2 linked regions of the Homo sapiens genome follow. The protein of the gene in region 2 purifies or fractionates together with the protein of the main gene of each other region. This does not show direct contact. Each region holds a gene or a part of one and is shown on either strand. Other genes may lie near its edges.

What was found. Proteins that work in one complex are often made in the same cells at the same time.
Region 1: the proteins of LRRC17 (region 2) and BCL7B purify together in Homo sapiens (affinity purification with mass spectrometry; one large-scale study listed by BioGRID and IntAct). This does not show direct contact.

What each region holds. Positions count from the first base shown.
Region 1 is NC_000007.14:73,538,171-73,540,741, forward strand, and holds part of BCL7B (B-cell CLL/lymphoma 7 protein family member B), read right to left. Parts: intron 1,883-2,571; coding exon 1,712-1,882; intron 1-1,711. UniProt on the Homo sapiens protein: Positive regulator of apoptosis. Plays a role in the Wnt signaling pathway, negatively regulating the expression of Wnt signaling components CTNNB1 and HMGA1.
Region 2 is NC_000007.14:102,911,379-102,915,132, reverse strand, and holds the start of LRRC17 (leucine-rich repeat-containing protein 17 isoform 1 precursor), read right to left. Parts: upstream 2,134-3,754; 5' UTR 2,048-2,133; coding exon of another isoform or gene 1,918-2,047; exon of another isoform or gene 1,739-1,917; intron 1-1,738. Other genes in the region: FBXL13 (F-box and leucine-rich repeat protein 13), read left to right, coding at 1,918-2,047. UniProt on the Homo sapiens protein: Involved in bone homeostasis. Acts as a negative regulator of RANKL-induced osteoclast precursor differentiation from bone marrow precursors.

The DNA.
Region 1 (2,571 bases), about 29 Mb from region 2:
GCCAAGAATGGTGGAAGGGCAAAATACGGCTAGACTGCAGAGGGCCATCTCTGCTGGGCTGGAGATATCTGGAACCGACAAAGCAGCTCATCTTGTCATCCTCTAGCCCAAACATCACAACTCTAACTCAATCTCCCAGTTTTCTGAGAGTTGCTATGAGGACGAGATGAAGTAATAAAACACAGGAGCTAAGAACAGCACATGCCAAATAGTAAGAACACAATAAATATTAACTACAATTGGCATTTCCCATGGAGAAACAAGTTCCATTTTGTAGTTGGCTGTTAACAGGTCACAGCACAGGAGAAGGTAACAAGGGCCTAAGACACATCTATATATCCATATTATAACAAGAAACCTGGGTCGGGCATGGTGGCTCACACCTATAATCCCAGCTACTCTGGAGGCTGAGGTGGGAGGATCACTTGAAGCCCAGGAGTTCAAGACCAGCCTGGGCAACATAGTGAGACTCCATTTCTACAGAAAATTAAAAGAAAGCCAGGCATGGTGGCAAAGGCTTACAGTCCTACTACTACGGAGTCTGAGGCAAGAGGATCACTTGACCCCAGGAGTTCAAGACTGCAGTGAGCTAGGATTCAGCCACTGCATTCTAGCCTGGGCAACAGAGCAAGACCCTATCTCTTTAAAAAAAAAAAAAAAAAAAAAAAGAAAAGAAAAAAATTTAGCATGTAATGCAGACAGCATAAATGCTGAAAATAGAAGGACTTAAAGTGACATTCATTCCAACAGTTACTAGACTGGCTATGTGATCTCAGACAAGCGATTTAACCTTTCTCTGTTTTTTTTTGAGATGAAGTCTAGCTCTGTCGCCAGGCTGGAGTGCCCTGGTGCGATCTTGGCTCACTGCAACCTCTGCCTCCTGGGTTTAAGTGATTCTCCTGCCTCAGCCTCCCGAGTAGCTGGGATTACAGGCTTGCGCCACCATGCCTGGCTAATTTTTGTATTTTTAGTAGAGATGGGGTTTCACCATGTTGGTCAGGCTGGTCTCTAACTCTTGACCTCAGGTGATCCACCCACTTCGGCCTCCCAAAGTGCTGGGATTACAGGTGTGAGCCACCGCGCCAGGTCTTTTTTTTTTGAGATGGAGTCTCACTCTGTTGCCCAGGCAAGAATACACTGGTGTGATCTCAGCTCACTGTAACCTCTGCTTCTTGGGTTCAAGTGATTCTTCTGCCTCAGCCTCCGGAGTAGCTGGGATTACAGGCACATGCCACCACGCCCAACTAAATTTTTTATGTTTTTAGTAGAGACGGTTTTGCCATGTTGGTCAGGCTGGTCTTGAACTCCTGGCCTCAAGTGACCCGCTCACCTCGACCTCCCAAAGTGCTGGGATTACAGGTGTGAGCCACCATGCCCAGCCCAATTTAACCTTTCTAAGCTTTGAATGTCCATTTTCCTCATCTGTAAAAGAAGACAATAGCTGCCACCTCACAGGATTTTTGAGAGAATTATAGCAGGCGTCAAATACTCAAGTTCCTTCCACACAGCCTGGCACGCAACTCTAATGCTTGTTTTCTCCCTTCCCTCTGTGAAAGGGGAAACTATAATCATTCCTAAGCTATCGAGAAAGGGCTTGGTGCTGCCTGGCTCTGAGGTGCTCTCTCGAGCCTGTTACTCTAAAGACGAGACACAACAAGAGCAGAAAGCAAGGCCCTTCTAGGAAACTCATCCTCGGCCAACCACGACTCACCCTCCAGGATCTCCTGGCCCAGCGTTGGGGGCTGGGAGTCATCCGTGCGGAAGTCGGAGGTGTGTGCTGGGCTCAGGGACTCACTCTGCTGGGGGCTGGGGCTTGAGTTGGTGCTGCTGTCCACCTTAAGCTGATAGACGTCAGACACGGAACTCTGGTTGCTGTTTTCGTCTGAAAACCAAACAGAACAAAGGCAGCAGCTGAGCGTGGTCATTTTCCTCAAGAGGAACTCTGGACAGAGCCAAGGGCCTGGCATCACTTTAGGCAGCCAAGGATACAACTGAGTATAATAATCATTGTGCCCGGCCTACACGACATAGATTCTAAGCACCAGAGGCAGCCAGAATCTTTATGTTTATGCAACATTACACTTTAGGAAGGTCAGGATATGCTTATTAAACTCTTCTTTATTATCCACTGATTGCAGCTTGTGGAAGGGAGGGATGTAGCTGTGTCTCTGGTCAGTACTTCTCAATCCTTCTCACATCATAAGATGTGTAGAAAATGACATTTGTCAGGCATCCTTGGGCATCTGAAGGAGGCTGGTGGTGTCTGAAGGTGGTGAGCTCAGGCTTCGGCTGCCGGACTGACGGATTAGCACCTGGGAGTTCTGCCTGAAGGCTTAAAGTCACCATCAAGGTGCAAAACTTAAGAGTTACCAGGCCGAGGCCAGGCACGGTGGCTCACGCCTGTAATCCCAGCACTTTGGGAGGCCGAGGTGGGCAGATCACAAGGTCAGGACATCGAGACCATCCTGGCTAACACGGTGAAACCCCGTCTCTACTAAAATTACAAAAAATTAGCCGGCTGTGGTGGTGGGCACCTGTAGTTCCAGCTACTCAGGAGGCTGAGGCAGAAGA
Region 2 (3,754 bases):
AAAAAAAAAATATTTTAATCTCCACTTAACAAATGAGAAAACAATCTCTGAGAGATTAGGGAGGTTGCAGTAAGTGTCAGGGCTTGGATTTACATCTCATTTGGCCGGATTCAAAAACCTTGTGTATTTTGCACTGTGTCACGCGGCCTGCCTCACAACTCCTTTCTACAGATTATAAAGCTAAAGGATTGCTAGAAATGACACCCTGGTGTGCCTCTCCCCACCCCAAGAAAATTGTACTCAGTTGAATCACAGGGTGTACCCCAGGGAGAGGAAGATAACGCATTTCCAAAACTTTAGCACAGCTCAGTCCACTCGACAGCCCCAAGAGAGGGGGCGTGTCTTTGGGATATTAGCACTGCTTTCTCCTTCAGGCCCTGCCCACCTAGTCACTGGTGAGTCCAAAGCCTTCCCCCTCGCTCTGTCGAATCTCACGTACACAGCCCTTCCCAGATCGGGATGTGTGTTCTGAATCAAGTAATTCGCTATGGCATGCAAATCATTATATCATATAGATGTGTTTTTCAAAATCTGATTAATGGTCAGTGCTTGTATATCTTATTTCCCATTTATGGGAGGTAAACTTTATTCACCTGTGTGATTTTGAGAGGCAGAGAAGCATTTTCTCCTCACTTTTCATTCTTTTTGCTTTCTAATTTGCTATTAAGCTGTTGCATATCACAAACTAAGAGCATGATTGCTAATTCCATTAGAAGAGCAGATAGTAGTGGGAATCCTTGACCTCTTAAAAAGTGCCAGGCTTTCTGGGCACGGTGGCTCATGCCTGTTCCGAGCACTTTGGGAGGCCAAGGCGGGTGGATCACCTGAGGTCAGGAGTTCGAGGCCAGCCTGGCCAACATGGTGAAACCCTGTCTCTACTAAAAATACAAAAATTAGCTGGACATGTTGGCACGCGCCTGTAATCCCAGCCACTTGGGAGGCTGAGGCAGGAGAATCGCTTGAACCAGGGGTTGGGGGAGTGGGGAGGAGGTTGCAGTGAGCCAAGATCTCACCATTGTACTCCAGCTGGGCAACAAGAGCGAAACTTCGTCTCAAAAAAAAGTTCCAGGCTTTGGAGGGCTTGGGAAATTGTCCACGGAGTGTCCTCAAACTGCGAGCCCTCGTATGGTAGTACAGGCTCATCCTAACTACCCTACTTTTTTCTGGAAGCTGTCATTTTGGTCATTGTGGTAATACCATATTTAATCTGTTTCAACTCCAGCGAGATTTATAGTCTCTGATGTTGCTTTTGATTCTTCTCATGTGTTGCCTGCTTATTTGCAAACTGGTCTTCTTAATCCATGCTTAAACTCTGCATATCAATTAGTCTTTCTTTAACTATAATAATGAAACTGTCACAAACTCATGCATATTTAAACCTATTTTTTAAACTCATTTGCTTATCAGATCTATTTTAAGAGCATGGTCATATTCAGTTTTGCCTTCTGTCCCAAATCCTCACTCTCCTGTAACAGTCTCCATTTAAATGTTTACAAAGGATTTGTCCTTTTATATATTTTGCACATTATTTTGGTACTCCAGAGATAAAACCTAAAAGCAACAATACACTCTGCAAATTTGGTTTCACTTCCAAACAATATGATTGCCTCCCCCACCTCACACACACCAAAAAAGCTTTATCCCAGTCAACTTTCTTAAATATCTAGGCAAATATTATTGAACTATTAATACTTTCACTTGAAATGTATTACAAGGTATTAAATGTATTGTGTGTTACCTTATATAACACTGTAGTCTCCTTTAATTAACAGGTAGAGAGTTAACAGTAAAGTTAAATGTTGAACATCTGCAAGAAGAAGAGTTGAATTTACAGTTTTCTTTGTCATAGTGGCTTAAGAAAGATTTGAGAGAACAACGGAAGTATAATACTTTCCTTCCTCTCTTTTGTCTTTTCAGGCACTTCCACAACTTACAGAATCTTAGTTTGGCTTATTGCAGACGGTTCACAGACAAAGGCTTACAGTACCTGAACTTGGGGAATGGATGCCACAAGCTCATCTATCTGGACCTCTCTGGCTGCACCCAGGTTTGTCTTTCAGTCTTCTCTTTGCTGCGGTGTGTGAGGAAGTTCTCCAGAGAATGGGCTGCATTCAGCCCTCACGTTATACTAATGCTGTGCACGGACCGCAGCACACTTTTCAGAGGTTTTAAATTACATGGCCCCAGCTGCTGAAATTTTCCCCAGGATCGCTATTATAGGCTCTTGGCTTCCTTCCACTGGAGTGTCACACAGACAAACAGGCAGAGCTCATTGGATGAGGAAACGGACCACTTTTGTGGAGACAGTCTGAGCACAAGTCTAAAGCAGAGTCCAAGTCCTGAAAACTCTGGAGTTGCTACCAAGACACAAACAAAGAGAATGTTTTGAGGGAGAATTTTGCATGGGATTCCTGAAAAGTCAATTAACTCCCACATGGGTTTTTTTTTGGGGGGGGGGGGGTAAAATGCTATAAGTGATAAATAGGAAAAGAAAATACAACAAAAACTCATAATTTAAAAAATTGCATTACACCGTTGGGCTGAATAACATGAAGATTTGAGATCTGCGTGGGAAAATATTTTAAGTTTGAGGGAACAGGACTTGGAAAGTTGGGCAGAAAATTGGATCAAGTTGCAGAGGATAGGGCATGGCGCTTTGGATGTAGCTACTGCCTCATTGATAGTTTCTTCTGCTTTAATTTCAAAAGATTTAAGCCATAATTCTTTTAACTTATTTTCTTCTGCCTCTCTGTGTATTTTATTAATTTGGTGTCATAGTATGTTCATTATTCTATGAGAATAATAGCATAGGTGAGAACTGGCTGAAATATTGATAGTTATCATTTCTTGAGTCATTACCATATGCCAAGCATTGTGTTGAGTGCTATACACAGATCAGATTTACTTCTGATACAGTGCTGTGGTGGTATGTATTTACTATGCTTATTTACAAATGAAGAGACCAAGGCTCAGGGTGGTTGAATAAGTTGCCCAAGTTTGCACAGCTGATGAAAGCACATGGTACTAGTACAGTTTTAAGCATCTGTTGCTAGATACTGGGGCAGGCAGAGTTCCCTGGGATAGTGGGAAATACAGGGGCAGCATGGGTTTCTCCCCCAGGGTTCTTGAATGGATAGAATTCTTACCTAGTCACCTCCACTGACATCTTGTGGTATCCTGATGCCCTGGGTGGTCTGGAGGGAGTTGGGGCAAGGAGGGGAGGATTCTAAGTTAGGGCTGTAAACATCTAACATTCATATTTGTTTAAAACTGATCTGCTGATGTGTAGCTTTTTAAACATCAACATCTACCATAACTTTATGACTGAGATGGCATTGACGTTCTCCTCAGCATGACTGAATTTTAGACCAGCTTCTTACTGACTCTAGGCCCTGACTTCTTGTTTTCTTGTTTCTTAGAGCATTTGTTTTAGAAAACTTGGAATTATAAGTTCTTTCTCTGCCTACTTTGAGATGTCTTTTTAACAAAAGCTTCTTGACAGTTTTACAACTCAGGAAAGTCTTCCTCAAGGACCTGGGATCTATCCCTTTGATATATAATCATCAAAGAAGATATCTCTCAGTTCCTGTGGGTGGGTAGAAGCCTAACTTTGATGGGCACCAATTAGCAAATGCCAATGGCCCAATCACAGAGAAAAATATTTGCAAACTCAGGAACAACTTAATGTGCTTGACATATCCCACTGATAAGCCTGCCCCTTAACTATAAATCCTTCAGTACTTTTCTAACTCGC